Linked DNA regions of Homo sapiens. The protein of the gene in region 1 purifies or fractionates together with the protein of each later gene. This does not show direct contact. Each region holds a gene or a part of one and is shown on either strand. Other genes may lie near its edges. The genes, in order: FOXA1, VWA8, RCC1, POP1, SRSF9, BUD23 and SLX9.

What was found.
Region 2: the proteins of FOXA1 (region 1) and VWA8 purify together in Homo sapiens (affinity purification with mass spectrometry, with the first as the bait; 2 studies listed by BioGRID). This does not show direct contact.
Region 3: the proteins of FOXA1 (region 1) and RCC1 purify together in Homo sapiens (affinity purification with mass spectrometry; 2 studies listed by BioGRID and IntAct, with this or other methods). This does not show direct contact.
Region 4: the proteins of FOXA1 (region 1) and POP1 purify together in Homo sapiens (affinity purification with mass spectrometry, with the first as the bait; one large-scale study listed by BioGRID). This does not show direct contact.
Region 5: the proteins of FOXA1 (region 1) and SRSF9 purify together in Homo sapiens (affinity purification with mass spectrometry, with the first as the bait; 2 studies listed by BioGRID). This does not show direct contact.
Region 6: the proteins of FOXA1 (region 1) and BUD23 purify together in Homo sapiens (affinity purification with mass spectrometry, with the first as the bait; 2 studies listed by BioGRID). This does not show direct contact.
Region 7: the proteins of FOXA1 (region 1) and SLX9 purify together in Homo sapiens (affinity purification with mass spectrometry, with the first as the bait; 2 studies listed by BioGRID). This does not show direct contact.

Annotation. Positions count from the first base shown.
Region 1 is NC_000014.9:37,588,328-37,592,642, reverse strand, and holds the end of FOXA1 (hepatocyte nuclear factor 3-alpha), read left to right. Parts: coding exon 1-1,278; 3' UTR 1,279-3,091; downstream 3,092-4,315. UniProt on the Homo sapiens protein: Transcription factor that is involved in embryonic development, establishment of tissue-specific gene expression and regulation of gene expression in differentiated tissues.
Region 2 is NC_000013.11:41,953,919-41,958,535, reverse strand, and holds part of VWA8 (von Willebrand factor A domain-containing protein 8 isoform a precursor), read left to right. Parts: intron 1-4,617. UniProt on the Homo sapiens protein: Exhibits ATPase activity in vitro.
Region 3 is NC_000001.11:28,522,304-28,526,920, forward strand, and holds part of RCC1 (regulator of chromosome condensation), read left to right. Parts: intron 1-4,054; exon of another isoform or gene 4,055-4,310; intron 4,311-4,617. UniProt on the Homo sapiens protein: Guanine-nucleotide releasing factor that promotes the exchange of Ran-bound GDP by GTP, and thereby plays an important role in RAN-mediated functions in nuclear import and mitosis.
Region 4 is NC_000008.11:98,137,308-98,141,924, forward strand, and holds part of POP1 (ribonucleases P/MRP protein subunit POP1), read left to right. Parts: intron 1-2,770; coding exon 2,771-2,882; intron 2,883-3,461; coding exon 3,462-3,581; intron 3,582-3,889; coding exon of another isoform or gene 3,890-3,897; exon of another isoform or gene 3,898-3,958; intron 3,959-4,617. UniProt on the Homo sapiens protein: Component of ribonuclease P, a ribonucleoprotein complex that generates mature tRNA molecules by cleaving their 5'-ends. Also a component of the MRP ribonuclease complex, which cleaves pre-rRNA sequences.
Region 5 is NC_000012.12:120,463,441-120,467,345, reverse strand, and holds part of SRSF9 (serine/arginine-rich splicing factor 9), read left to right. Parts: intron 1-1,558; coding exon 1,559-1,719; intron 1,720-3,223; coding exon 3,224-3,396; intron 3,397-3,596; exon of another isoform or gene 3,597-3,905. UniProt on the Homo sapiens protein: Plays a role in constitutive splicing and can modulate the selection of alternative splice sites. Represses the splicing of MAPT/Tau exon 10.
Region 6 is NC_000007.14:73,689,360-73,693,976, forward strand, and holds part of BUD23 (18S rRNA (guanine-N(7))-methyltransferase), read left to right. Parts: intron 1-1,556; coding exon 1,557-1,653; intron 1,654-3,236; coding exon 3,237-3,287; intron 3,288-3,969; coding exon 3,970-4,055; intron 4,056-4,264; coding exon 4,265-4,310; intron 4,311-4,617.
Region 7 is NC_000021.9:44,970,259-44,974,597, forward strand, and holds part of SLX9 (ribosome biogenesis protein SLX9 homolog), read left to right. Parts: intron 1-2,938; coding exon 2,939-3,007; intron 3,008-4,339. UniProt on the Homo sapiens protein: May be involved in ribosome biogenesis.

The DNA.
Region 1 (4,315 bases):
ATGACCATGAACACCATGACTACGAGCGGCAACATGACCCCGGCGTCCTTCAACATGTCCTATGCCAACCCGGGCCTAGGGGCCGGCCTGAGTCCCGGCGCAGTAGCCGGCATGCCGGGGGGCTCGGCGGGCGCCATGAACAGCATGACTGCGGCCGGCGTGACGGCCATGGGTACGGCGCTGAGCCCGAGCGGCATGGGCGCCATGGGTGCGCAGCAGGCGGCCTCCATGAATGGCCTGGGCCCCTACGCGGCCGCCATGAACCCGTGCATGAGCCCCATGGCGTACGCGCCGTCCAACCTGGGCCGCAGCCGCGCGGGCGGCGGCGGCGACGCCAAGACGTTCAAGCGCAGCTACCCGCACGCCAAGCCGCCCTACTCGTACATCTCGCTCATCACCATGGCCATCCAGCAGGCGCCCAGCAAGATGCTCACGCTGAGCGAGATCTACCAGTGGATCATGGACCTCTTCCCCTATTACCGGCAGAACCAGCAGCGCTGGCAGAACTCCATCCGCCACTCGCTGTCCTTCAATGACTGCTTCGTCAAGGTGGCACGCTCCCCGGACAAGCCGGGCAAGGGCTCCTACTGGACGCTGCACCCGGACTCCGGCAACATGTTCGAGAACGGCTGCTACTTGCGCCGCCAGAAGCGCTTCAAGTGCGAGAAGCAGCCGGGGGCCGGCGGCGGGGGCGGGAGCGGAAGCGGGGGCAGCGGCGCCAAGGGCGGCCCTGAGAGCCGCAAGGACCCCTCTGGCGCCTCTAACCCCAGCGCCGACTCGCCCCTCCATCGGGGTGTGCACGGGAAGACCGGCCAGCTAGAGGGCGCGCCGGCCCCCGGGCCCGCCGCCAGCCCCCAGACTCTGGACCACAGTGGGGCGACGGCGACAGGGGGCGCCTCGGAGTTGAAGACTCCAGCCTCCTCAACTGCGCCCCCCATAAGCTCCGGGCCCGGGGCGCTGGCCTCTGTGCCCGCCTCTCACCCGGCACACGGCTTGGCACCCCACGAGTCCCAGCTGCACCTGAAAGGGGACCCCCACTACTCCTTCAACCACCCGTTCTCCATCAACAACCTCATGTCCTCCTCGGAGCAGCAGCATAAGCTGGACTTCAAGGCATACGAACAGGCACTGCAATACTCGCCTTACGGCTCTACGTTGCCCGCCAGCCTGCCTCTAGGCAGCGCCTCGGTGACCACCAGGAGCCCCATCGAGCCCTCAGCCCTGGAGCCGGCGTACTACCAAGGTGTGTATTCCAGACCCGTCCTAAACACTTCCTAGCTCCCGGGACTGGGGGGTTTGTCTGGCATAGCCATGCTGGTAGCAAGAGAGAAAAAATCAACAGCAAACAAAACCACACAAACCAAACCGTCAACAGCATAATAAAATCCCAACAACTATTTTTATTTCATTTTTCATGCACAACCTTTCCCCCAGTGCAAAAGACTGTTACTTTATTATTGTATTCAAAATTCATTGTGTATATTACTACAAAGACAACCCCAAACCAATTTTTTTCCTGCGAAGTTTAATGATCCACAAGTGTATATATGAAATTCTCCTCCTTCCTTGCCCCCCTCTCTTTCTTCCCTCTTTCCCCTCCAGACATTCTAGTTTGTGGAGGGTTATTTAAAAAAACAAAAAAGGAAGATGGTCAAGTTTGTAAAATATTTGTTTGTGCTTTTTCCCCCTCCTTACCTGACCCCCTACGAGTTTACAGGTCTGTGGCAATACTCTTAACCATAAGAATTGAAATGGTGAAGAAACAAGTATACACTAGAGGCTCTTAAAAGTATTGAAAGACAATACTGCTGTTATATAGCAAGACATAAACAGATTATAAACATCAGAGCCATTTGCTTCTCAGTTTACATTTCTGATACATGCAGATAGCAGATGTCTTTAAATGAAATACATGTATATTGTGTATGGACTTAATTATGCACATGCTCAGATGTGTAGACATCCTCCGTATATTTACATAACATATAGAGGTAATAGATAGGTGATATACATGATACATTCTCAAGAGTTGCTTGACCGAAAGTTACAAGGACCCCAACCCCTTTGTCCTCTCTACCCACAGATGGCCCTGGGAATCAATTCCTCAGGAATTGCCCTCAAGAACTCTGCTTCTTGCTTTGCAGAGTGCCATGGTCATGTCATTCTGAGGTCACATAACACATAAAATTAGTTTCTATGAGTGTATACCATTTAAAGAATTTTTTTTTCAGTAAAAGGGAATATTACAATGTTGGAGGAGAGATAAGTTATAGGGAGCTGGATTTCAAAACGTGGTCCAAGATTCAAAAATCCTATTGATAGTGGCCATTTTAATCATTGCCATCGTGTGCTTGTTTCATCCAGTGTTATGCACTTTCCACAGTTGGACATGGTGTTAGTATAGCCAGACGGGTTTCATTATTATTTCTCTTTGCTTTCTCAATGTTAATTTATTGCATGGTTTATTCTTTTTCTTTACAGCTGAAATTGCTTTAAATGATGGTTAAAATTACAAATTAAATTGTTAATTTTTATCAATGTGATTGTAATTAAAAATATTTTGATTTAAATAACAAAAATAATACCAGATTTTAAGCCGTGGAAAATGTTCTTGATCATTTGCAGTTAAGGACTTTAAATAAATCAAATGTTAACAAAAGAGCATTTCTGTTATTTTTTTTCACTTAACTAAATCCGAAGTGAATATTTCTGAATACGATATTTTTCAAATTCTAGAACTGAATATAAATGACAAAAATGAAAATAAAATTGTTTTGTCTGTTGTTATAATGAATGTGTAGCTAGTAAAAAGGAGTGAAAGAAATTCAAGTAAAGTGTATAAGTTGATTTAATATTCCAAGAGTTGAGATTTTTAAGATTCTTTATTCCCAGTGATGTTTACTTCATTTTTTTTTTTTTTTTTGACACCGGCTTAAGCCTTCTGTGTTTCCTTTGAGCCTTTTCACTACAAAATCAAATATTAATTTAACTACCTTTCCTCCTTCCCCAATGTATCACTTTTCTTTATCTGAGAATTCTTCCAATGAAAATAAAATATCAGCTGTGGCTGATAGAATTAAGTTGTGTCCAACGGAGACTCATGAACTCTCTTCTCATTAAAAGAGAAACGAAACTTAGCCATCAGGGTAGCTCTGGAGGAGGTGGGAGGAGGGGAGTTAATTCACTCTCGCAGGGGAAGCGTTGTACCGACAGGACATTTTAGGGTAGCCGCTATTTTGCATTTTGTGAAGATTGTTTTAAATTTTGATTCAAAAATGTCGTTCCTAAGAACTTAAAGTTGATAATTTGTTTCCTTCTAAGGAGCTTTTAAATGCAACTTCACACTCCATAGTTGCTTGGGATCACAAAATCATTAATCTCCTTTGATAGCAGGCTCACTTTCCAGTCCACCTATTTCTTTGTAAGTCTTGTTCGGATTGACATCAACAATAACAACACCAGCTCAAGCAGAGGCCTGCCTGCCTGAGCCCTTGTGTATGAACTCCATCCTCACCAGGGCTTGAACTTGGACAGCCTTTACTTTGATCGCCCCACTCCACACCGCGGACAAGATAAAAAGAGCCGTGTGAGTCGCTTAATTATCGCGTAATTGCCTCCCCAGATGAGAGAAAGGGTGCCATGTAGCACTTGAAAAAATCCAGAAATCCCAAACCCCCACTCACTTCAGTTAATGAAAGGAGGAGGGGAGGGAAATTACTGGTTTGAATAATTTCAAACCCTAATTTGGAGACCTCGGAAGGACATCAAAGTCCCAAAGAGAGGAAAAAGCTTCCAATCCCAACAGTTACTCTTATTTACATAAGGTAAACAAATTCAGCTTCCAAATGTAATATAAAGGCGTGGGCTTGGGCCTCGGAATCCCGCCCCCACTGAATCTAAGATGTTTAACTTCTGTGCTGTCCTCTCTGTGATGTTCCCTTTCTCCTTTTCAACGTATTAGAAACATCAGCGCCTTGCCTTCACCCCACCAAGCTTAAGTTGGCCTTAGCTCTCGCTCTGTTACTTGCCGGAGACATTTTCTAGTTATGCGGGGGACGGGGGCACTTTGGAGACCTGCCTCGGGAGCTGGACCGCGGGGAGCCTGCAGGCCCAGCCCCTGCTTTGTGGGCTTCTCGCAGTTCTCAGACCGCACACTCCGCCACCTCTGGGTGATGCGACCTGCCACCCGCGCGTTAGGACGCGCGCGGGTTGGCGGCCAGGACAGCTGGTTGCCAGGGAAGGCGGACAGAGCAGGACAGCAAGCGTCTCGAGGTGACAAGTGCAGATAGTTCTTCATTGTTTGGGCATTTTCCCT
Region 2 (4,617 bases), on another chromosome or scaffold:
TTACATCTTATGTTGGGATGATGCTCTCAGCTGCATTCATACATGTGACCAGTAACTGATTATCTCCTCTCTCTGTAATTGACATTGCTTCCTAATAGTTTGAAAAAAGAACAACAAAGTTCATAAATAATATATTTAAGTTATATACTGCTGTTATTTCTCCTGGAGTATTTGTTTTGTTTATCTATATATTCGTTTGGTGCCTGCCAACACTTTGTACCTAGTAAGCATTCAGTGGCTTATTTTGTGAAAGTTCATACAGAGAAGGAGCAGGAGAGGCTGGAATTGTCGTTTGCTCTCAAGAGAGGACCTTTGTTAAGCCTGATAAGCAGAAGGAAAATAGGTCATTTATGTTAAAAACAAAACAAGCAGATAAACTCAACCCAAACCCACTGCTTTTTATCCTGTGCTGTCAGATAGTATAAGTATCTATAATTGTAAATTCTTTATATCTCTTTATACTTCCATTAAAATTACTGTCTCTTGGTTTTAAGAGCAAAGAGGTTAACAAGGATATCTACTGCAGAGAGTTTTCAATAAAGATTATTGTAGTGTTTTTACAGATGGAGCCAAGCAAGTTGTTTCAGTGGGACTCTGATGTTAAATGGATTCAAATATACTATAGATCAAATGATAAACCTAGAAACATAACTGTATAAATATATCATGACATTTTGGTGCTTTCCTTTAACGCCATTATTATTAAAGGGATTCACAGTTTTTTCTTTATGACTCTTGTATATGAAGTAAATTTGTTTATAGAAATACCCTAAAATACTTTTACACAGCAATCTATGTTTATTATAGAAGAGTGATAAGTACAGATTCCCTAAAACATGATCCTCCCACCCAAATTTATAATTATCAACTTTTTAGCATTAATCCTATCAGATTACATATATATGTATAATTATTTATTTATTTATTTTTGAGATGGAGTCTTGCTGTGGCACCCAGGCTGGAGTGCAGTGGAGCAGTCTTGGCTTACTGCAACCTCCACCTCCTGGGTTCAAGCGATTCTCCTGCTTCAGCCTCCCAAGTAGCTGGGACTACAGGTGTGCACCACTGTATTAATCTGTTCTCACACTGCTATAAGGACATGCCAGAGACTGGGTAATTTATGAAGAAAAAGAGGTTTCATGGACTCAATAGTTTCGCATGGCTGGGTAGGCCTCACAATCATTGTGGAAGGCGAAGGAGGAGAAAAGTCACGTCTTACATAGCGGCAAGTAAGAGAGCTTGTGTACAGAAACTCCCCTTTATAGAACCATCAGACCTCGTGAGACTTTTTCACTACCACGAGAACAGCACAGGAAAAACCTGCCCCCATGATTCAATTACCTCCCACTGGGTCCCTCCCATGACACATGGGGATTATGGGAGCTAGAATTCAAGACAAGATTTGGGTCGGACACAGGCAAACCATATGAGCCACCCCAGCTAATTTTTGTATTTTTGGTAGAGATGGGGTTTCACCATGTTGGCCAGGCTGGTCTCGAACTCCTGACTTAAAGTGATCTGCCCATCTTTGCCTCCCAAAGTGCTGGGATTACAGATTTGAGCCACTGTGCCTGGATGATATGTATATTTATACAGATACATTTTTTTAAAGAAATGGGATCATGTATGTTTTATAATTATTACATCCATTATTGTGAACATATTAACATGGTAATAAATATCATTGTACATGATTGTTTAAAGTAGTTATTAAGTTTATATGTTTGTCCATATAATTTATTTTACTGTCTCATTCTTGCACATTCATGTTGTCTAAAATATATAAACAATGCAATAAACATCCATCTACATGAATTTTTGTTATTTTAAGATTATATCCTTGGGCTACAATAGGATTAGATAGAAATAACTTTGAGGAGGGGAAATATAGAACTGTGGCTTCAACTGAGAAATACAGTGTAAAGAGGAAAGAACTATACTGTGGTTTTGGTCTAAGTTTTGTATTTATCAGGTATTGAACCTTGGGGAAATTATTAACTACTTTAAACCTGCAGCAGGTTATTTTGACCCTGAGGATATTCTGACCCCATTGTGTATTCAAGAATTTAACAGAAAGGCTCAGAACAATGGTAAGCTTATAAATCATTAGGCAGATCTGCATTAGGGGCACATAGACTAGTGTGGGAATTGCTGATATATTTAGTTTTCTCTTGGGTCTAAGTTTAGTATATATAAAAATGATGACACTAACCCAGTAGTTCTCAACCCAAGGTGATTTCTCCCCCTCAGGGGACATTTAGCAATGTCTGGAGATGTTTCTTTTTGGTTATCAGAACCAGGAGGGAGGGGTGCTACTGGCATCTAGCGGGTAGAGGCCAGTGATGCTGCTAAACAGTCCATGACACACAGGACAGCCCCTCACAACAAAAAATTATCTGGCCCAAAATGTTCATAGGGCCGCTGTTGAAAAACCCTCATGAAACCAACTTCTTTGTCAAAGCTACTGTTAGAAACTTTAGACTCACTAAACTTAACAGAATTTAAGCACAGAACAATTTGTGAATTGGGCAGTCCTCAGAACCAGAATAAGCTCAGAGAGCTCCATTCTGAAACGTGAGCAGGCAGCATTTATGGACAGAAAATGGAAGTCAGGTACGGAAACAGCTTACTTGGCTATAACTCAGTGTTTGCCTTACTTGAACACGGTCTCATCAGTTGGCAGCCTGTGGTTGACCCAAGCTCAGCTGCTCAGATTGGCTAAGACTCATCTATTTGTTACCAAAGTATACTCCTAAGTTCCGGTTTCAGTTAATTTACATACAAAGTTATGTTGCAATTCATTACATAAGGACTCCAAGTACGGAGGCATCCTTAGACCAAATTTGGTTGAATTTAACAATTTGCCCCTTTGGTTAGCTTCTCAATTTTGACAGATTCACTGAAACTTTGGGCATTGTTGCCACTCTCTGTCACCAACTTAATGGACTTACTTGGTCTCATTATGGAATTTAAAAGCCATGATGTCATATCAGTTGAATAATTCTTTATGTTCTTGCTGTTCTGGTCAAAGTGAGACCATTGAATGCTCAATGAATGGCTGCATACAAACATTTAAGACTTGAGAGGATATGGTGCACCAGAAGGGCTATCATGAAGAATCTCAGGATAATAATAAAGACTGTAGTGTACTTCTTAACAGGAGCCCCTGTGAACTGAACCAATCAGAAATCCAGCAAGGTTCAGGCACTTTAGACACTTCAATAGTATTTGAGTCTAGTTCAAGTAAACCCACAGTTTACATGAAGAAAGGCATACATTTGCTTCTTTTGCCTAAATTATGTTACCTGTTGTCTTATAAGTATTCTTATTCCCCTTTAGAGAGTAAACTACCTCACTTAAATCATTATAGATGGCTTGACTTATAAGCACATTAGTAGGTGGGATGTTTTCAAAGGAGAAAACATTACAGCTTAAAAACAATACTTAAGAAAAAATTTAAAATTATAATTATTCATTTGTCAAACATTTATTGAATATCTGGTAGGTTTCAGGTATTGGGGATAAAATGATGATTAAAACTTAGGCCTTGCACCAAGAAAAAAAGAGTCCTGTAGACTAAACAGTAGTCTTCAAAAATTTTTCTTATTTATCTGCTAGGAGGATTTTAAAAATATGTATCCCTTTGAACATTTTTAGGTTAATAGCTAAAGTTTTCCTGGTAAGTTTAAATAGTTGCAAACGATGACATTTCCAGTATGTTGTAAATATTGGCATTTAAAAGAAAAAATATTACAAATTCTGAGTGTATCTTTTAAGTGGAAACAGAATATTCTAGTAATTTAGTACAAATTCTGAGTGTATCTTTTAAGTGGAAATAGAATATCCTATCTCTATTTTGGAAGTAGATAAAAAGCTCTTCTTTAATTGTTAGAAAATGTCTCTTATCTCCTTGAATTTGTATTTCCATTACAGAAGCATAAATCAGATCCTGTGCTAGCAGAAAGACTAATGGAGTGATCAATTTGTGCTAGAGGAAAAGTTAGGGAAGGTTCAATGGGGAGATGAAGATATTTCAGTAGTAGTTGTGTAGAGGGCAAGTGGTGTGAGAGAGATGTGGAAGGTCTTCTAGGCTGAGGAGATAAAGTGTTAGTCACTGAGATAGGAATACAAGAGGTGGAGCTGGTTAGAGGTGGTTAGGCGCACACAATGGACAATATAGAATTCTGTTTCTGTGTGTTTGTTGAGTTGTCTCTGGAATATCTAGGTAAAGTCTCCAGTAGGCTACTGGCAGGTATGAAACTCAGGAGAGAGATCTGAGCCAAAATAGACATTTAAAGAATTAGTTGTATATGGTGTTTGAAGAGTACCCTTAACTGAAAAAAAAAAAAAGGTTGTATAGAGGTCAGAGTTGGGACATTGGTATGGATTAAATGACTGAGGAAAGTGTAGTGTAGTAACAGAAGATGGCCAAGAACATCAATGTTTGAGGCAGAGATGGCAGATGCCTGGTCCATATGAATGTCATAACTTTTCCCTTTTGTCTATTGCAGATGTGGCTCATTGATCACCACCCTGTTTCCCAATGAGTCCAATTTCCGTTGTGATTTATTTTTTGGATTTTTTAAGAAGCCTGTTGCTTGATTTCCAAATGTTTGG
Region 3 (4,617 bases), on another chromosome or scaffold:
ATTCTGGCCTGGTGGGTCTGGCAAGGAGATTGTGTGGGAAGAGAAGGGAGGATGTGATAGATAGGAAATGAAGCTAAAGGTTCTGTCAGTACCCGATGTTGGAGACCTCTAATACCCAGCTAAGAAATGTGGGCTTTATCTTCCAGGAAAAGGGGACCACTAAGGAGTCCAAGCAGGCCAGCAGCTTGCTTCAGGTTTGAGGTTTGGAAAGATCATGAATGAGGCCGGGCATGGTACCTCACGCCTATAATCCCAGTACTTTGGGAGGTCGAGGTGGGAGGATCACTTGAGCCCGGGAGTTTGAGACCAGCCTGGGCAACATAGTGAGACCTTGTCTCTACAAGAAAAAAAAAAATTACAAATTAGCCAAGCGTGGTGGTACATGCCTGTAGTCCCAGCTACTCTGGAGGCTGAGGCAGGAGGGTCGCTTGAGCCTAGGAGGTGGAGGTTGCAGTGAGCCGTGTACGTGCTGCTGCACTACAGCCTGGGCAACAGAGTGAAACCCTGTCTCAAAAAAAAATAAATATATATATGTATATATATACACACACACATATTTATTGATCACGAATGACTTGGAGAATGAGAGGAGGGGATGAGGGTGGGGACCGGAAGACCAGTGAAAAGTTGCTGTCTTTCCTAGGGAAAGGAGGAGGAGACACAGTTCCAGGCAAGCTGAGAGACTACTAGGGAGCATGGGGAGGAAGGAGGCAGAAGAAATTTCTTTTTTTTTTTTTTTTTTTTTTGAGACGGAGTCTTGCTCTGTCACCCAGGCTGGAGTGCAGTGGCGTGATCTCGACTCACTGCAAGCTCTGCCTCCCGGGTTCACGCCATTTTCCTGCCTCAGCCTCCCGAGTAGCTAGGACTACAAGCGCCCGCCACCACGCCTGTCTAATTTTTTGTATTTTTAGTAGAGACGGGGTTTCACCGTGGTCTCGATCTCCTGACCTCATGATCCGCCCGCCTCGGCCTCCCAAAGTGCTGGGATTACAGGCGTGAGCCACCGCGCCCGGCCAGAAGAAATTTCTAATAACACTCAAGGACGCCAGCTCTGGAGTCTGACTAACTTGGTTCAGATCTTGGCCTTCTCTTCCAATCTTGAGTGAGATACTTCACCTTTCTGAGCCTCAGTTTTCTTCTCTGTAGAGTGGGATCATTGTGGCCAGCTTGTAGTGAAACGCTCCAGAATATTAGCCAAACACAACTAAGGAGATGTTGACTGGGTTTGTTCCATCCATGATAACAGATTTTTTGGTTAATGCCCCATGACACCAACACTTCATATAGCCCTTATGTGTCTGACTCCATTCCGGGCTGTGCTCATGGCAGCCCAGCCATCAGCACCAACTGTGCTGACATAATTGTTTCCTGCTTTTTCTCCTGACTTCTTATTGTGAGTACTTTTCATGCTAATACAGTCTCCCTCCCAGGCACAGCAGACTGCTACAGATTATTCTGATGAACTGATGAGATGTTTGCCTTGGCATACAGCTGTCTATCTAAAACAAGGGTGCCTCTTTTTTTGGTGGAGGGACAGAGTTTCACTCTTGTTGCCCAGGCTGGAGTGCAATGGTGCAAACTCGGCTTACCACAACCTCCACTTCCTGGGTTCAAGCGATTCTCCTGCCTCAGCCTCCCGAGTAGCTGGGATTACAGCACGCGTCACCACGCCTGGCTAATTTTGTATTTTTAGTAGAGATGGGGTTCCTCCACGTTGGTCAGGCTGGTCTCGAACTCCTGACCTCAGGTGATCCACCCGCCTTGGCCTCCCAATCTGCTGGGATTACAGGCGTGAGCCACCGTGCCCGGCCACAAAGATGCCTCTTATATCCCACATCCCTACCCCATCTAACTTTGCCTGCCTGACATCCTTTCTGGGATGGCTCCCAAGCACTTCAGATTGAATGAAAACACCTAGCAACATGGAGCTTCACGTCTCTTCTCTCCTGTTTGTTCAACAGTGTTCTCTATCTCACTACATGGAAGTCTACCATCTACCTGGTCATTTAAGCCCAAGCCTGGGAGTCTTTGTGTTTGGCCAAGCTCATAGGGGGATCTTGGGCAGGCCTGCCAAGAATCCTCTGGACTTTTTTAGGATGAACAAATCAAGCCAAGTGCTGTGGCACGTGCCCATGATCCCAGGCTCTTGGGAAGCTGAGGTGGGAAGATCGCTTGAGTCCATGAGTTCGAGGCTGCAATAAGCTAATTGCACCACTGCACTCCAGCCTAGGTGACAGAGTGAGACCCCCTCTCTTAAAAAAATAAAATAAAAGGCCAGGCATGGTGGCTTACACCTATAATCCCAGCACTTTGGGAGTCCAAGGCTAGAGAATCGCTTGAGCCCAGGAGTTCGGGACCAGCCTGGGCAACATGGCAAGACGTTGTTTCTGCAAAATATACAAAAATTAGCCGGGCGTGGTGGTGCACACCTGTAGTCCCAGCTATCCAGGATGGCTCAAGCCCGGGTGGTTGAGGCTGCAGTGAGCCATGACCATGCCACTGCACTCAAGTCTGGGCAGGACCCTGTCTCAAAAATAAATACAAAGGATGAACAAATTATGAGAGTAAAAAAGGGTTAGTCTCCTTTATCCTTGCTACACCTCCTCACCCAAAGCCAAGCAGTAGTGTAGCAGGATAAGCCGCAGACAAAACCCCCCAGACACCCAGTTAAAGAAGGAAGGGCTTTATTCAGCTGGGAGCTTTGGCAAGATTCACGTCTCCAAAAACTGAGCTCCCCGAGTGAGCAGTTCCTGTCCCTTTTAAGGGCTTACAACTCTAAGGGGGTCTGCATGAAGAGGTCGTGATTGATTGAGCAAGCAGGGGATATGTGACTGGGGGCTGCATGCACTGGTTATCAGAACGGAACAGAACAGGACAGGGATTTTCACAGTGCTTTTCCATACGATGTCTGGAATCTATAGATAACATAACCGGTTAGGTCAGGGGTCGATCTTTAACCAGACACAGGTCGCGGCGCCAGGCTGTCTGCCTGTGGATTTCATTTCTGCCTTTTAGTTTTTACTTCTTTGGAGGCAGAAATTGGGCATAAGACAATATGAGGGGTGGTCTCCTCCCTTAGTAGTAAAGCACTATAAATATTTGTGGATTTACAACCATTTCATTCAGTCTTGATGACAGCCCTGAGAAGTAGTCATTGCATCCCCTTTTATAGATGAGGATACAGTTCAGAGAGGTTAAGGCAACTGGCCAGCCACAAGCTCTGGAAGGTGAACCCAGTTCCCTCTAATCCCAAAGAATGTGCACTTTTTAGTGTGGGACAAGGGGTCTCAAAAGACAGGTGGGAGGATTCTCAGCCCTGGGAGAATAAAAGTTGGGTGAAGTTCAGAACTGCCACCTCATCAGTCAGAACTGGGCCAGTGACAACCTGCAGAAGCTCAGCCTGCAAAGGCTTATCAGGATTCTAGACCTTTGGTTACTTTCCCATCTTTAGTATTTAGTTCTCCTTCCCCAGGATAATCAGCAGAAAAGTGCCTGGCCTTGTGTCCATATACCATGGAGGGGAGAGCTAGAGAGGCGAGGTTCTCGGGAACCACTAGAAGGAAGGAATGAGGGGGCTGCTGGTTAGGCCCAGAGCTGAGACCGAGAAGGGCTCTTGGAGTTCTCCTTCCCTTCGTAACATTAGGTAGAGGCTTAGACAACTTGATTGTTTTTCATGACCTTAAAGACTGTGGCTCCGGCCGGGCATGGTGGCTCACAGCTGTTGTAATCCCAGCACTTTGGGAGGCTGAGGCGGGTAGATCGCTTGAGCCCAGGAGTTCTAGACCAGCCTGGGCAACTTGGCAAAACCCTGTCTCTACAAAATATATAAAAATTAGCTGGACACTGTGATGCGCACTTGTAGTCCCAGCTATTCTAGAGGCTGAGGTGGGAGGATCACCTGAGCTCAAGAGGTCAAACCTGCAATGAGCCGTGATTGTGCCACTGCACTTGAGCCTGGGCAACAGAGAGTGAGATGCTGTCTCAAAAAAACAAACAAACAAACAAACAAAAACAAGTACTTGATGACTCCATTGGGGTCAATTATGAAGAGACCTCTTAGTGCAAGACCAGGACCTTCTAACAGCACACCGAAGTCTCGAGAAATTCGCTTAGTTAAATCTGACAAGGGTGCGATGTTTATGTGGCCCAAAGCACCATTCTTTCTTGGTGTATTTATCCAGGCAAGACGGCTAAAGTGGGAATCCACTGAGACTGCAACAACTTCAAAGTTCACATCGTGAAATTCCTTAGCTTTGTCACTAGAAGCAACAATTTCTGTAGGACACACAAAGGTGAAATCCAAAGGATAGGGCTGGGCGCGGTGGCTCACACCTGTAATCCCAGCACTTTGGGAGGCTGAGGTGGGTGGATCACCTGAGTTCAGGAGTTCAAGACCAGCCTCACCAACATGGTGAAATCCCATCTCTACTAAAAATACAAAAATTAGCCAGGCGTCGTGGCAGGCGCCTGTAATTCCAGGTACTCAGGAGGCTGAGGCAGGAGAATTGGCTTGAACCCAGGAGGGGGAGGTTGCAGTGAGCCGAGATCGTGCCACTGCACTCCAGCCTGGGTGACACAGCAAGACTCCGTCTCGGAAAAAAAAAAAAAAAGAAAGAA
Region 4 (4,617 bases), on another chromosome or scaffold:
TTTTTTTTTTTCTGAGATTGAGTCTCATCCTGTTGCCCAGGCTGGAATGCAGTGGTGCGATCTTGGTTCACTGCACCCTCTGCCTCCTGGGTTCAAGCGATTCTCCTGCCTCAGCCCCCCGAGTAGCTGAGACTATAGGTGCACACCACCAGGCCCAGCTAGTAGAGACAGGGTTTCACCATGTTGGACAGGCTGGTCTGGAACTCTTGACCTCAGGTGATCCGCCCACCTTGGCCTCCCAAAATGCTGGGATTACAGGCATGAGTCACCGCACCTGGCTGGTTTTCTGGGGCTAGTTTTAGGGGTCTAGAATCTCTAAAAAGGTTAAGAGCAGTATGTCTAGGGCAGCACTTCCAGTAGAGCTTTCTGTGAGGATGATGTTCCTTTGTGCTGTCCAGTACGACAGCCATTAGCCACATGTGGCAGTTGAATACTTGAATTGTGGCTAGAGTGACTGAGGAACTGAATTTATACCTTTACTTAACTTTAATTAACTAAAAATTAAATTTGAGTAGCTCTATTGGCAAGTGGCTAGCATAGAGACTAGATTAGGAATCTGCACCCTGGGTTCAGATCCTGTTCGTTTTCTGGTCTTAGTGCAATTAACTTTTCAATGCCTGTGCCTCTCACTGACTTGACGTGGTCAAATACGATGATAGAGCTGAACAGATTCTGAGTTTTTAGAAGAAAGATGCTTTAAAATACAAAAGCTACTTTTCTCCATCTTCACTGCTTCTGCTGTACTCTCAACCAGTGTTGTCTCTTGCCTGAACAATTGGGGGATCAGGAAAGGATTCTAGAGGGAACCTTAAGTTTCCTCCATCCTTCCTCCTTTTCAGCCCATTCTCCACACAAGAGGCAGAGTGATTTTTTGATAATTTATTCCCTCTTGTTGCTTCCTGATGAAAAGTTTTTGAATAGCTTCTCATTGTAATTAAGATAAAATCCAAAGTGCTCAATGTGACCCGTGTAATCTTGTGCCTTCTTGCCTCTGAGGCCTCATTTCTCCTCACCCTTCTACACTTCAGCCACCCTGACCTTCTTTCAGGTTCTGGAATGTCAGTTCTTGTCTCCCTTAGAGCCTTTGCACCTGTTTTTTCCTTCCAACTACTGAGCATTCTGCCTCCACCACTCTTTACTTTGCTGAACCTTCCTCATTCTTCAGATTTCAGTCTCTAGCATTTCCCTCTAGCATCCTTTCCTGATCCCCCAAGTTAAACTAGATCCCTCCTGTTGTTTTCAGAGAGAGCATCTTGCAAATTCCCTCAATTTATTTATATAGATTTGTGTATTTATGTAATGTCCATGTCTCTCATGAGACTGTGAGCTTCATAAGGGTGAGGATAGAGTTGGTCCTGTTTTTCACTCTCTCCCCAGTGCTTAGCACAATGTCTGGCACAGAGAGGGTGCCCCGTAGTAGCTAATAAGTTGTGGAGCAAAGATTTGAACCAATGAAGTTTGGTTCCAGAGCCTGTACTGTAAACCACTAAGCTGTGCTACCTGAGTTTCTGTGAGTAAATGGTACCTTTGTTATGATTGCTTTTTTTTTTTTTTTTTTTGTTTGAGACAGAGCCTCACTCTGTCACCCAGGCTGGAGTGCAGTGGCACAATCTCAGCTCACTGCAACCTCCACCTCTCAGGTTCAAGCAATTCTCATACCTCAGCCTCCCGAGTAGCTGGAATTACAGGTGCCAGCCAACACACCCGGCTAATATTTTTTGTATTTTTAGTAGCGGTTTCACTATGTTGGCCAGGCTGGTCTCGAACTCCTGGCCTCAAGTGACCCGCCTGCCTCGGCCTACCAAAATGCTGGCATTACAGGCATGAGCCACTGCACCCGGCCATGATTGCTTCTTTAGGATCCGTAAGTGCACATCCTACTTCAGTGAACTTCAGCATGAGTTGTGGCTATAGATTCCCTTCTTGCCATGCATGTGATACTTGAAGGACTTTTTGAAATCTTCCTCAATTCCTAGTTCCATGTGGAAAAAATATACATTTCTAGGAATAATGTAGTAGTAGTATATCTTTTATCTGGAAAGTTCTTCAAAAGGTACTGGTTTGATTTTCCTTTGGTGAGGAACATTTTATTGCTTACATTGGAGATGATGAAGTTAGCTCTAGTGGAAGAGGACCAGGCGTGTGGCTCACACCTGAAATCCCAGCTCTTTGGGAGGCTGAGGTGGGTTGATTGCTTCAGCCCAGGAATTCAAGACCAGCCTGGGCACCATAGTGAGACCATATATCTACAAAAAATAAGTTAAAAAAAATTAGCTGGGCATGGTGGCATGTGACTGTGGTTCCATCTCCCAGCCACTTGAAAGGCTGAAGTGGGAGGATCACTTGAGCCTGGGAGATTGAGGCTGCAGTGAGCCATGACAGGCCACTGCACTCCAGCCTCAGTGACAGTGAGACTGTGTCAAGAAAAAAAAGAGAGAGGAGCGAGGCCTCCTTTGTTGGTACTGCGCTCTGGAGAGACTTTGAGTGTGAAGTATCTTAGTGAGTTAGTCTATGAAAACCATAGATGATTTTCTTCATATGTGAAATCTTGAGAGAAGTGTAATACTATATCCTTGCTGCTAATTCAAAGGGTAGTTAGTCTGGTATTAATTACTATGTTAAGTATAGTGGCAACTTCCCTGGTTCATCCCATAACACATACATTTCCACACATAGAAGAAGAAAGAGTGGGGGCTGATATCACAACCATGACAAAATTATGAAGGTGGATTCATTGTTCGTCCAGTGAATAGTAGTTGTTATTTTTCAGGTGGGAGAGGACACAGAGGAGACACCTCACCGCTGGTGGATAGAAACCTGTAAGAAACCTGACAGCGTTTCCCTTCATTGCAGACAAGAAGCCATTTTCGAGTTGTTGGGAGGTATACAAAGGGAAGACTGGGTTGTGTTGGGGAGGGAAGGGGGCCAAAAGAGCCTTTTGCAGTTGGGCCTCCAACATGTAGTATTGCTTTTTAACCTGCTGCTATTGTGACACAGCAAGAGAACCAAGTAAGAGAGGGACTGAACTCAGTGAATAAACACTATATTCATGCCTGGTTATGAAACAACAAACAAATGGTATGTTCATATTCTAAGTAACTGGCATTCTGATAGTGGAGATAAATGCATACACCAGGTACTGACCTAAACTCTATGCTTACCTGCACACAACTGCATTTTTGCTCATAGCTGCTGTAGTTATCACTGATAGAAGCATATGTGTTCATTTCATAAAAGAACCTTTTTTTATGTTGGCCTCATGTTTTTTGCAAGAAACCTCATTCTTTATGAATGTTAACTTATTCTCTAAAAGTATCAATGGGAAGAGAGGGAATACATGTTTTTAAGTAATTAGTCCAAGAAAAACGTTTCATTAGGAAATCTGAAAGATTTAAAAATACAAGCAAATACAGATGTATTATGAATGACTTTCTGTAAACTTCTTTTTGTTGTTGTTAAAGGAATAACATCACCAGCAGAAATTCCGGCAGGTACTATTCTGGGACTGACAGTTGGGGATCCTCGAATAAATTTGCCCCAAAAGAAGTCCAAAGCTTTGCCCAATCCAGAAAAATGCCAAGGTAAAGTTCCAAAAACACCCCAGGTTTTCCTTACTATTTCGAGCAGTCCAGTCTTATTAGAAGAAGAGTTCTTTCTCTGACACCTCTCCAGTAACTTCATCTGTAAAAAATTAGGGCAGTCTCCTTACCTGCCCACTTTACAAGCTGATTATGATCTAAGGAAATGGTAGGTGTGGAAGTGTCTTTTAGCAGTAAAACACGTAGCCTGATACTTATGTTCATTTTATTTTCCGAGTTCTCTTTTTTTAGTATCTAGTAAAACCTGTCTCTCTGCAAACTACGTTCTCTGAAAATGTCTGGCGTTTCAGAATTTTAATTGTGAGGAAGGGATCTGCACCCGAAGCTGGTCTTGTGCTCAGTGGAAGCCTCTGTCTGACCATACAGATGATCCAGGTTCGAATCCTGGCAAGGCCATCCCAGGTGCTGAAGTATAAGATGTCTTGGTTTAGACTAAGTAGTACTAGAGGCCTGAGAAAGTTGTTTGGCTGGGGTGGCACAGGAGGTGGGTAAGGGGCTGGCTAAAATTTTGTTCTGATATGAGATTGGCAGCAATTTTGATAATGTCTCATTGTATTTACTGTCATTTAAACATGATTAATTGGAAGAATAATTAAAATTACCATGTGAGTCTTTGGAGATAAAGTAAAGGTTTGTGTTGTAACGACTTCAGAATTTTTTTTTTTTTGAGATGGAATCTCGCTTTTGTCACCCAGGCTGGAGTGCAATGGATGGCGTCATCACTGCAACCTCCACCTCCTGGGTTCAAGTGATTTGCCTGCCTCAGCCTCCTGAGTAGCTGAAATTACAGGCATCCACCACAACGCCTGGCTAATTTTTTTTTTTTTTTTTTTGTATTTTTGGTAGAGATGGGGTTTCACCATGTTGGCCAGGCTGATCTCAAACTCCTGACCTCAGGTGATCCACCCACTTCAGCCTCCCAAAGTGCTGGGATTACAGGCATGAACCACCACGCCTGGCCCAGAATTTTTTTTTTAATGTAGTTAGATAGCTTATTGATGGGGCAATAAATTACTCT
Region 5 (3,905 bases), on another chromosome or scaffold:
TCTTTTTAGTAGAGACGAGGGGTTTCACCAGGTTGCCCAGACTGGTCTCAAGCTGCTAACCTCAAGTGATCCACCTCCCAAAGTGCTGGGATTACAGGCATGTGCCACAGCGCCTGGCCTGAATGCTGGCCAGTTTTTATTCAGAGTTGTTCTGACCTCCTAGCAGTTCTGCCTCTCCCAGTCTGCATTTTACGTAGTCAAGGTTGCACTGGATATGGTCATTGTTGCTTTTAGTTCTAAAATCTTACAAGTGATTATGTGCCTGTGACACTGAACAATGCCTTCATTAGCACATTCAGCTCCTCTTGTCCACCCAAGCTCCAAGGTCACACTTTCTACCATCCAATACTGGAGAATCAACGTGGCATTCCTGACTCTCCTAGAGTCCTAGGAAAGACTTAAAGTAATTTTATTGAATATTTATCTCTTTTGGCAAAATTGTATCCAAAGAATGTTTTTTGACAAAAATAGTTCTCCAAACCATGCTGAAAAGGTACACTTAGAGTTCCAAGGCCAGGCGCAGTGGCTTATGCCTGTAATCCTAGCACTTTGGGAGACTGAGGGGAAGGATCGCCTGAGCCCAGGAGTTCAAGACCAGGCTGGCCAGCAGAGGGAGACCTGTCTCTACAAAAAATCCAAAAATTAGCTGGGTGCAGTGGTACACGCCTGTGGCCCTAGCTATTCAGGAGGCTGAGGTGGGAGGATTGCTTGCGCCCAAGAGTTAGAAGCTGCTGTGAGTTATGCTCCAGCCACTGCACTCAGCCTTGGTGACAGAGCAAGACCCCGTTTCAAAAAAAAAAAAAGTTCCACATTCATCACAAAACACTCATTTGCATTTTTCTTTTGTCCTTTGAGCCTTATTTATTTATTTTTTTAAAAGACCGGGTCTCACTATATTACCCAGGCTGGCCTGACCTGGGCTCAAACATCATGCCCAGCTACTTTATTTACCCTCAAATACTCTCCTATCTAACTGGCTACTTTTTTTTTCCTGTTTTTTGGGACAGGGTCTCTGTCACCCAGGCTGGAGTACAGTAGTGTGATCTTGGCTCTGCACTCCCATCTCAGCCTCTCAAGTAGCTGGGACTACAGGCGTGCAACACCATGCCTGGCTAACCGCCTACTTTTTATTTCCATAGACTTTATGGCACTAGGCTTTGTAGAAAAATATTAAGGGGTTAGTGTGTGGTGTGCTTTTCGAGAAAATGCTCACGAAGATTAGAAAAACACTGATGGTTTATTGGCAAAATCAATAATCTGTCAGCAGTTGATTCTTTTTTTTCTCTGAATTAGCCCTCTTATGAGTAATCTGTTTGCTCATTCATTATAATTTCATACCTCTAAAACTGCGTGTGACAGCTGTAAAGGTTAATTCCAGTATCATGAAACGTCTCCAAACCAAAGCAGAAGTGCTTCAGGATCCTGATTTGTGTGTTTTTTTCTTCACTCTAGGTTTCCCTTTTATGCTTACTACTCATGCCCCTCACTTGGAAAGTCACTTGGCCTCCTGAACAGCACTAACTCCAAACGTTTTTTTTGTTGTTGTTGTTTTTTTTAGAGATGCAGAGGATGCTATTTATGGAAGAAATGGTTATGATTATGGCCAGTGTCGGCTTCGTGTGGAGTTCCCCAGGACTTATGGAGGTCGGGGTGGGTGGCCCCGTGGTGGGAGGAATGGGCCTCCTACAAGAAGATCTGATTTCCGAGTTCTTGTTTCAGGTATGTTCCTTTCAAACAGAATGAGATGATACATGTAAAATACTTAACACAGAGTCTGTCTTCCAAGAAATGATAGCTGTTATTCTTCAGTGCATGGGACACGGGGGCTTTCTTTTCAATAGCCTGTGTGAAGCCTTGCCCTGGATTGCCAATGAGGAAAGTATCCTGCAAATGAAATTGCGCTGGGAGTGCAGCCTTGGAAGAACATAACCATATTTCTTGTAAAGGAGTTTTCTAGTGGTGAGAAGGAAAGATGATGGGAAAACTTGAGCTACAATTCTAAAGATGCTTCTTTTGGAATATACTTGGCATCAGACATGGTAGAAAGGCATTCAAGGAGCCAGATTTGAACAACTTACCCAGCCTTGGATCCTGAAGAAGATCAGATTTTGTGGTGGTTTTAGAATTAAATATTTTTTAAAACCCCGTAACTTAAGAGTCTTAGAGATTTTATTGGAAAGTATAGACTATTTCTGTCTAGTGTTTATAAGTGATGAAATGCTAAACTGGGAGGTTTATCTATCTTCAAAATATTAACACACTGGAAAGACCTGGGGCCTTCTGCATATTGCATGGGAGTTTTAGGGCCCTGGTGGAATGAAATAAATCGAGGAGCCTGGCACCTTTTTAAGATGTGAATGTCACACAATCACAGCATACTCCCATGTGCTTAAGAGTGATACTCTCAGTATCTGCCTATCTTGTGTCCCTTTGTAATTTTTTAACCCCAGAACTCTATTCCCTCCTTCAGGATGTCATACATTATCTTTTTTTCTCTCCATGCTGCTCTGAAATCCTGCTTAGAAAACTATTAGGAAATGGCTGCAGTCCTGAGCTGTGAGCGGTAAACACAGCCTTTGAGAGCAGGAGCACATTTCCCTTTCATGACATCAGGTAGGGTTGTATGACTCCCGACTAGTTTTAGCATCTGAGTCTTACCTTCCCCCCCACTGTATTGAAGAATGTTGGTGATCTTTTAAGAGGTACTCTGTATAGTTTGTCATTCATACCTACAAGAAAACAAACTTTAGATTTTTTGTTGTTGTGTTGTTACCTTCAGCTACTCTTTGGTTATTTCATGTCTGGTTTCAAAATTCCCATGTCCTGTGAAACCCTGTCAAGCAATAAATAATTGGTACTGTTAAATTTCATAATGGAAAAAATTGGAACTCAAAGTATTAGGAGTTTGGCATTGATTTTAAAGGACAAAGAAAGAGGCTATGAATTCTCAAAGATACTAAACCTGTAATGGGATGGACTTCTTGCTCTGTTGAAAAGGCCTGGTCTCTGGAAGATGAACTTAAAACCAGCTTCTCAAGGTGGTTCATTTACCACACATACTTCAGTGCTCTTTTCTGATTTCATGTCCCTTATCAAGGTTTATGATTTGGGGACCCTCAGGATTTAAGTGATCATGGAGAAAGGACCATAGGTATTGCTGGCTCTTAACAGGGCAGTTAACATAGCTGAAGGATGTGGGCTTTCTTATGTTCTCCATGCCTAGGACTTCCTCCGTCAGGCAGCTGGCAGGACCTGAAGGATCACATGCGAGAAGCTGGGGATGTCTGTTATGCTGATGTGCAGAAGGATGGAGTGGGGATGGTCGAGTATCTCAGAAAAGAAGACATGGAATATGCCCTGCGTAAACTGGATGACACCAAATTCCGCTCTCATGAGGTGGGTCCTTGCCTTCTGTTGAGGAGCTTGTACTCAAATCACTCCACTTGAACCTGACCTAGCAGAGGTAGCAAGAGGCCATGCCATTTGGTAACCTCACAGTACCATAAGAGATCTATCTTAGGTGGACAAAGCCATGGAATTTGCTATGCCTAAGTCCTTCAGGGTCATAGCTGAAAGAAGTATGCATTCATGGTACGTTTGTTTTTTAATATGCTTTATTCTGCATATTAGTATCACATTACACAGTTTGGTCATGGTATTTGTAACCTGGAGAGAATACTAGTGCAGTCGGTCTTCATACCACCCCATTCACAACCAGCTTAAATGGCAGTATCCCTCTGTGAACTCAACTACCCCTCCTGTGGGTCCAGGCTGAGCTCTACAGGTCAGCCTCTTCATCTCAGCCCTTCTAGGTCCTGCTGTCAGGGCTGAGCTGTCACTTCACTTTTTTCCCAGAGTAGTGCAGCATCCTCTCTGAAACCTGAGCTATCATGACATTTTCTTTT
Region 6 (4,617 bases), on another chromosome or scaffold:
TTTTTTTAAACATTTGCTACATGTAAGGCGTACAAGGTGCTGTGGAGTACAGGGAAATGAAACAGTTTCTGCGTGTAAGACTCTCCACGGTTTATTAGGTGCTTTAGGACATGGACCAGGCAACTGAATATAAGGGCATGAGTGGTGTGTGCCCTAGGGAGTCATGGGGCTGCCAGAGCACAGGAAAGCCTTGGGTGGAGGGGCTGCACCTTGAAGGCTGGGAGGAATTTGGATAGTCAAGGAGAGGGTTTCTGAGTGAGGGAACAGTGGGCAGAGGCACAGATGCCGGTGGGAAAGGGGTCTGAGATGAGAGGGATGAACGAGAGATTCCACGGAAGATGGGGTTGAGTGTGGTTGCTTCCTAGAAGGCACTTAAGTGTGTCCTAAGAAGTTTGGGCTTGATGGAGTAGATGATGGGGAGTTGGCAGGTGACGGGATCAGATGTGTGTTTAAGGAAGGTGATTTTCTGGTGAAAGAGGAGAGAGAGTTAGGTGGAAGCATTTGAGCTGGTAGCACTGAGCATTGGTGCGGGGAAGTGAAAGTTGGGAGAGGCTGTGGGACAAGCCAGTGGGGTGGAGGTAGGGCTCTGTGTGTGTACAGCAGGGCGGAGGGGAAGGGCAGGAAGGAAGACATAGTGACTGGTTGAGGTTTTATTTATTTATTTTTTGAGATGGAGTCTTGCTCTGTTGTCCAGGCTGGAGTACAGTGGCACAAGGCTTACTGCAACCTCTGCCTCCCAGGTTCAAGTGATTCTTCTGCCTCAGCCACCTGAGCAGCTGGTATTCAAGGCACATGCCACCAAGCCCAGCTAATTTTTGTATTTTTAGTAGAGACGGGGTTTCACCGTGTTGGTCAGGCTGGTCTCGAACTCCTGACCTCAAGTGATCCACCCATCTCAGCCTCCCAAAATGCTGGGATTACGGGTATGAGCCAATGCACCTGGCTGCTTGAGGTTTTAAATCTGGGGGTTGTAAAGACACTTAACAGGTAGAGTGGAAGGGAGTGATTTAGGAGGAAGGGTGATGGGATGGCTGTGTGTATGTGAGTAGTCTAAAGCCTGTTTCCTTGGATTGGAGGAAGGGAACAAGGAGGGGTGTGTGGGCAGACAGCCTTGACACGGAGGACTTTTCAACTCAAGATGCAGATGGAAACAAGGTGGAGGAAAGGTTTCTTGGGACTATGGGACATAAATGCTGTCCTTCTGTATGTCCTATTTTTCCAGTGTTGTAGAGTCATGACCTGCAGTGGACCTGCACTTTTTTTGTCTTTAAATTTTTAAATTTAAAAATACTTTAAGTAAAGATGGGGTCTTGCTATGTTGTCCAGGCTGGTTTGAAGTCCTGGCCTCAGGCAATTCTGTCTTGGCCTCAGAAAGTGCTGGGATTACAGGGCGTTGAACCACTGTACGTGGCCTCAACCTGCACTTTCTAAGAAGGGAAGCTGTGGGAGGAGGGGTTTCTCTTGGAGAGCCAGGACGGATGATGTCAAGAGGCTTGAAGTGGTTGGGGGAGCAACGTGGATTGCTCCGTTGCCTGACTAGGTCCCTTCCTTTTTAGCATTTCTGCTGTGCAGTGGCTCTGTAATGCTAACAAGAAGTCTGAAAACCCTGCCAAGCGCCTGTACTGCTTTTTTGCTTCTCTTTTTTCTGTTCTCGTGAGTATAAGATCTTCTCCCCATCTGGGTTAGCTGCCTGTCCCTCCCTAGCACTGCAGGTAGAGTGAGGAAATTGAGGTGTCCCATGATGGGTAAGCTACTCATATGGGACCGCATGGGGTGGCAGGACCTTACTGTGGTTACTTCTGTCCAGGTCCTCAGCCTAAATGGAAGTTCAAGCTCAGTGGACTGATATACTCTAATCAAACCCAGAAGTCACTGATACCAAAATCGGAGACCAATTTATTAACTTGTAATAGGGCCTACTTCTGTTGATTGGTATTCCTATGTCTATTGCGCTGAGTTTTAATCAGAAGTTGGTTTGGGGGCATGGACTGAGCAGAGTGAGGACAGAGATGTCGTGTCCGGACCATCCAGAGGGGTACCTTCCAAAGTGCCCACATCCTTCTGACTCCTCACTTATCCCTCCTCCTAGTGCTGATCCTTTTCTTCGGATGAGGAACAGGATAGTTATTTACTGCAAAGAGAGCCTTTATTAGCTTTGTCTTCAAATTAATGATGTTAATTTCAGTTGTTCACTAGGATTAGCTGATAGTCTGAGATTTTAAGTCCTAAAAATGAGTTCTTTTTAAATTTTGTTTTTTGAGACAGACTTTTGCTTTGTTGCCTGGGATGGAGTGCAATGGTGTGATCGTAGCTCACTGCGCCCTCGAACTCCTGGGCTCAAGTGATCCTCCTGCTTCAGCTTCTCAAGTAGTTTGGACTACAGGCACACACCACCATGCCAGGCTAATTTTTTACTTTTTTTTTTTTAAGAGATGGGGTCTACCTATGTTGCCCAGGCTGGTGTTAAACTCCTGGCTTCAAGCAATTGTCTGGCATCAGGCTCCCAAAGTGATGGGATTATAGGCGTAAGCCACTGTGCCCAGCTTAAAAATGAGTCCGTTTTGAAGGATCTGAGTGGTTTTTGCCTCCTTAGCCTGGTCTAGCCCACCCCTAGTTTTCCTGGGGTGGACTGCACCTGCCGATCTGGCCACTGGTCTTTCTTGGGGTGAACTGCCCCTGCTGATGTGGCCGCTGGTCTTTCCTGGGGTGAACTGCCCCTGCTGATGTGGCCGCTGGCCTTTCCTGGGGTGGACTGCGCCTGCCTATCTGGCCGCTGGTCTTGTGTGTCACATGAGTTCTCCTCCTGGCACACTGGGTTAATATTTTAGTTCTGAGGTCCTTTGTGTTTCCTCTTCTCCCTGCTGGAAGGCTCCTCCCTTATATGTTTAAATAGCCAGCTCCTCACTCCATTCAAATCTCTGCTCAAGTATCCATTTGAAACAGGCCTTTTTGGAACCAAAAGTAAACTGAACTGAAAGGAAACTCTGTCACTTTGTCTAATTCCTCTTTTTGTAACAAAGAAAAAATTTGCTACTGTGAATTAGTTGCCTCCTTTACTAAAATGTGAGCTCCAAAGTTCAGGGTGATCTCTTTTGTTCATACTATCCCCAGCCCTAACAATGCCTCACACATAATGGAAATTCAGGAAATACTTGGTGAATGAAGGAAGAGAGGGGTGTCCAGGCCCTAAGCTCATGCAGTCATTTGTAAGACAGTGATGTTCCTGTTTCTTTCAGGTCCGGGGATCCCGAGCTGTCCTGCAGCTGTACCCTGAGAACTCAGAGCAGGTGAGTCCCTCGGCTACTGGGTGTGCCGGGGAGTTGGGGGACTCAACAGGTAAGCTGTCCTGGGGAAGCGACAAAGAATCTTATGCAGATTGGCGGGAAAAGGAGGAAACATGCACCCTAGTGTGGCCCCTGATGGCACATTTGATGACCTGATATCCTAAGGGGGTGGCATCTGCGGAGGTGGGGTGGGATGCCTTCTCTTGGCAGATGACATGGTATTACAGATAAGGTGATGCGACTGATTTCCATAACCAAATAAGTAAATGCCATTTAGGAAGGGTGAGAGGGCACCGACAGTTCTCCGTTGTGTGATGTATAAATTAAGGAATGGCGGAGTAGGATGTAGATGTTGAAAGATAAGTGAAGAGCTGTTCCTGACTAATAACATGAATGACTCTGGATTCCAATTGGTGGCCATCTCCCTAAACTTGAGTGGGGAGCTGGGTCCCTGCACTGGAAAGTGAGAATGAGGGGAGTTGCTTTGTTCTGTAATTCTCCTGAGGGAGGTGTGGGCCATGCCAGATTCTAGCCTGTACTTTTCTCTACGTGGCTTACAGCGACCTTAAGTTCTCCCAGGCAGGATTTGTCCTGGAGCAGACTGGCTTCTGAAGGAGGGGAGGGAGGTGAAGCTGTCTGCTCCTCTCAACCTCCGCTGCCTGACCCGCTGCCTTTCTTTCCTCAGTTGGAGCTGATCACAACCCAGGCCACAAAGGCAGGCTTCTCCGGTGGCATGGTGGTAGACTACCCTAACAGTGCCAAAGCAAAGAAGTGAGCGCTGGGGGCCGGTGTGCTGCCTGGGCTGCAGGAGGGAGGGTAGTGGCATAGCCCTTTCAGGCCACTCAGTGGTGCAGAGGAGTGCTGGGGTGTGGGTCACCAGGGTCCAGGCAGGCGGAGGGGGTGCGGGTGGGGGAGCTGAGGGCTTGTCTCCCTGTGGGGCTTTCTCCACCCAACCCTCACTTTGCACTTTCTCCTTTCAGATTCTACCTCTGCTTGTTTTCTGGGCCTTCGACCTTTATACCAGAGGTGAGGGACACTGGGTTTGCAGGCAGGCCTGTGTCTTTTGACTTCCAGGCAGTGGGGCTCAGCCTGCAGAGCCTGCTGGGAGAACACTGGTGGGGAAGCAGGGCCCAGCCCCAGAGTGCAGACCCTGGAGTGCTCACATCCTCTGGAATCTGGAGGCAGAGACCTCTGCTCTGCAGGTCCCAGAAAGGCGTGTCAGTTCCTTCTCGTGGGACTGGACCTCGTCCCTGTCGGAAGGGTCAGGCCTGGGTGCCTGGGCTTCTGGAGTGGGGCAGATGGTTTGAGAACTCTCCAGGGTGACCTGAGTGCA
Region 7 (4,339 bases), on another chromosome or scaffold:
CTCATGCGCCGGTGTTGGTCTGGACAGATGGATGTTTAGTTTACACACAGCGTTACTTGATTTTGGTGCCGAAACTGTTCCAGCATTGGCCGCTGGGAGTTCTTGCAGTTGCCCCCAGCTCCCTTTGGCCCCATTGACGTGGGGGTCGTATTTTTAGCTCTTTCCCACTGCCGAGCACCAACAGGTAACCCAGGCGCATCTTGGACATCTCCTGCCAGTCCTGCTGTTTCTCTAGGGAGCCCTGGCCCCTGTATTGCAGGAGGTGTGAGACCCTGAGATCTGGGGCTCGGTGCGCCTGTCCCAGGATCTGGGGTTTGGCGTGCCTGGGCGGCGGGCCGTGTCTCTGGGAACTGCATCTTGGTCCCGGCAGGCAGGTCTGCCCCACTGACCACCACTCTTGGACTCTGATGTGCTTTGGGCTTGAGGGGTCAGCAGGCGAGCACCAGTGGCCTGGGAGGCTGGAGGGTGGACAGCCTCTCCCTCCCAGCCTGGAGCTCTGTCTCTCACTTCTCCCCTTCCCACCTAGTGGGGAGAACATATGGCTTGGGCTGGCAGAGCTGTCCTTGTGGAACCCAAGCATTGGGTCCTTGCCCCACGGCCCCTCCCAACCCTCAGTCCCCTCAGTCCCCTCCCAACCCAGCTCCCTCAATCCCCTGTCCTGGCGCCCTGCCCTGAGGGCCTCATGCCCCTGGGGTGCAGGATGCAGAGCTGGAATCTCAGAGGCCAGGGCAGGGCCCGTGTTTGGGGTCCACGTCACTCCTGGCTGGGAAGCAGGCATCGAGCGACACTTGACTCCGGTGACCCCCATGCTCTGGACCTCCACCTCCTGTGTGCGCTTTGTGGGCAGTTGTCGGGAGGGGACCCCCCATGCTGTGGACCTCCGCCTCCTGTGTGCGCTTTGTGGGTGATTGTCGGGAGGGGAGTGGTGGTGACGCCGCTGCTCCTGCCTGGAGGGAGTGCCGTGGGGGCTGGTGAGGGTCCACACTGGGCGGAGTTAGGCTCCAATTCCTCCTCGGCTTCCTGCTGTTAGGCCTCGTGGAGTCGCGTCCCTGCCGGTGCTTGCCCTTGGCCCATGACGGTAACCGCCCAGCACTCTGTCCCCGGGGCCCTGAACTCCGGAAACCCCACTGGGTAGGCTGTGCGTCCCGCCTGGGAGGATGGGGTGTGGGACGCGTGGGTGGGGGACGGTCCCCGCAGTGGGGAGGGGAGGTGCCGCGCCTGGCCTCATGGGCACTGCAGCCACCCTGGGTGCAGCTCCTCTGCTTTGGGACCTTGGGAGGCATTGGTCCCACCCCCACTGCTAGTTCATCTCTTAAAGTGAGGGTGCAGCTCCAGGGCCCGAGGTTTCCCCAACCAGGAAGGATGTCCTGGACCCGGGCTCAGGTCTCCTGACCCAGCACGTGGCTGCCCAGAGCCCTGGCACCAGGGTGCACCTAGAGGAGGGGCCCCACGCTGATGGCTTCTGCAAGGATGGGGACCGGGGACAGCTCTGGGCAGTCAGTGAGGGAGCTGCTGCTCAGGGGTGGACACAGGGAGGGGGTCGGCTGGCCAGGGGGGCAGAGCTTCTGCATCGGGGCAAGGCTGGCCCAGGAGAGGCCGTGGGGAGATGTCGTCAGCCCCGGCAGAGCCCCTGCAATGAATGGAGCTGTGGCTTTGAGCGGGCAGAGGGGACGGGAGATGCGAGGGGCTGTCATCTGCCAGTGTGAGCAGGAAGGGATGGGGACTGATTCCTTCCCCAGATCAGCGCAGAGCTAGGGTTAAAAGAAAGCGGGTGCTGAGGGCTATTTTGGGCAGACACAAAATGTCTGTCATTCATATTTTAAGAGATCCATGAATAAAAGATGAAGTCTCCTGGCCCGAGGCTAAGTGTAGGGCTGGTCTGAGGACTCTGCGTCTCTGCCTTCCCGCCGTCGTCTGGGTCCCATCTCACTGTGTGGACGGCAGATCTGAGAAGGCGCCTGGTGTGGCCTTGCGGGTTCTCTGTTCCTTTTAAGGCCCAGGTCGCTGTCCCATGTGAACATTCGGCCAGGTGGGCGGCTGCCTTGGCCGGCTGACCACAAGGAGTGCAGGCGAGCTCCCGAAGATTCCCACGGTTAACTGAGGGTGAGAAGCTCCGCGGGCAGCCGGAGCCTGCCTGGGGTGGACGTCAGAGATGAGAGTGTCCTGGCCCGCCCGTGCCCTTAGTCAAGGCCCAGCTTGGTGGTTTGGAGATCCCAGGACTAAAGGAAATAGCCAGCAGCACTCAGGAAACCTCCTCAGTTCCTCCACCTGTCCATGGGGGACTGCAGTGCTCGTTGGCACCCCCCGCAGGTGCAGGCAGGGCAGGATCTACGGTGGGTCCACGCCCCTGTCCCCAAGTTCAGTCATCAGGAGGGCAGGTGCAGCTTCCCACTGTAGCACAGCGTGCGCCTTCTTCTAAAGAGAGGACCTGGGGACATGTAGGCTTGGGTGGGTGACTCAGCCTTCCTGGGAAGTGGTGTGTACTGCGGGAGTGGGACTGGCTGTGCCTGCCAGGGTCCTTTGGCCCGAAGTGTGAGGTGTCTGCGCAGCCTGCCCTGGCCAGGCAGGTGGGGTGGAGACGCTGTATATCGTGAGACGTGTTCCTGGCTGACCACTCCCTCCATGTCCCATGGAGCCAGGAGGAGCTGCAGGAGTCACCAGATTCCACACGGAGCAGCTTGGGGCCCGCGGTCACAGGACGGTCAGGCAGTTGCACTGCTTGTCCGGGGCGGTCACAGGACGGTCAGGCAGTTGCACTGCTTGTCCAGGTCTCGCCTCCATGGCCACAGTGCAGCTTGGAACTTGTGGTTCTGCAGTGGTTTGGTCACCTCTGGCCACCACGACGTCTGCTCTAAGAAGGGAGGAGCCAGCCTCTGCCCACGGGAAGGTGTTTAGGGGATGCTGGATGCTGACTCACGTGGCTTCTCTGTGTCCACAGCAGGGAGAGCAACAAGCCCCGGCCCTCAGAGCTCAGCCGGATGAGCGCAGCCCAGAGACAGCAGCTTCTGTGAGTGCACCTGCCCACCTCCTCAGGGGTTCAGCTCCTGAGTGCCCTCACCCTGCCCACCCTCTCCAGGGGTTCAGCTCCTATGTGCCCTCACCCCGCCCACCCTCTCCAGGGGTTCAGCTCCTGAGTGCCCTCACCCCGCCCACCCTCTCCAGGGGTTCAGCTCCTATGTGCCCTCACCCCGCCCACCCTCTCCAGGGGTTCAGCTCCTGAGTGCCCTCACCCCGCCCACCCTCTCCAGGGATTCAGCTCCTGAGTGCCCTCACCCCGCCCACCCTCTCCAGGGGTTCAGCTCCTATGTGCCCTCGCCCCGCCCACCCTCTCCAGGGATTCAGCTCCTGAGTGCCCTCACCCCGCCCACCCTCTCCAGGGGTTCAGCTCCTATGTGCCCTCGCCCCGCCCACCCTCTCCAGGGGTTCAGCTCCTGTGTGCCCCCACCCCGCCCTCTCCAGGGGTCCTGAGTGCCTCCAGCCTGCCCTCCCAGGGGTTCAGCGGCTGAGAGCCCCGCCCGTGCCTCTAGTCCCCTCCACGCTGCTCCGCTGGCTCCTGCCTGTCTGCTCCAGGGGGGCTTTTCAGTGCAGTCAGGTCCTGTGGCCCTGGGTCAAGTCCCGCCTCCCAGGAAGGCTTCCAAGGGGAGTCATGGATCTAAAATGATGGGTGGACGCAGCCCCATCTCCGCCCCTCCCCTCCGCTGGCTGGTTGAAATCTGGATGATACGTTTGGTTCTGTGACTGGGCACTGCGGCCCCCAGTTAGCAGGGCTAGGACACTGATTTGCAGAAATTTGTACTCAGTTGTCCTCTTGGGTACAAAAATCTCCAGACCACGCACGCTCTCTTGCCTCTTTGCAGACTCAGCTCCAGTTTCCACTGAGAGAGCCACATTTTACGCCCTTGTAAGATGGTTTTAGTTAGCTGCTGGGATGATTTTTCCTGTGGTTTGAAATGGCTTTACTCAGGTGTTTATCAGTGGGAGCGTTTTGTGTCAGTTCTACCGAGGCCCATTGTGCCTTTCCAGTTGAGAGTCTGAAGTCTGTTTTGTGAGTTCGATTATGCTTAGAAGCTGCTGTCTGTTTTGTGAGTACAGTTATGTTGGGAAGCTGGTGTCGAATGGTAGCTCCAAAGATTTCTTTATTGTCTCGGCCCTTCTTCAGGGGCACCAATTATGCACTTACTGGATCTCTCTAATCTATCTGTCTTCCATCTCATGTTCTCTAATCCATTTTTACTCTAGACACTTTGTAGGGTCTAGGTGAAGTATAGATAGTATAGTAAACTGTCTTTTTTAGTTTTTTAAAAAGTTTTTATTTTTATTTTTTAGAGACAGTTCCTTG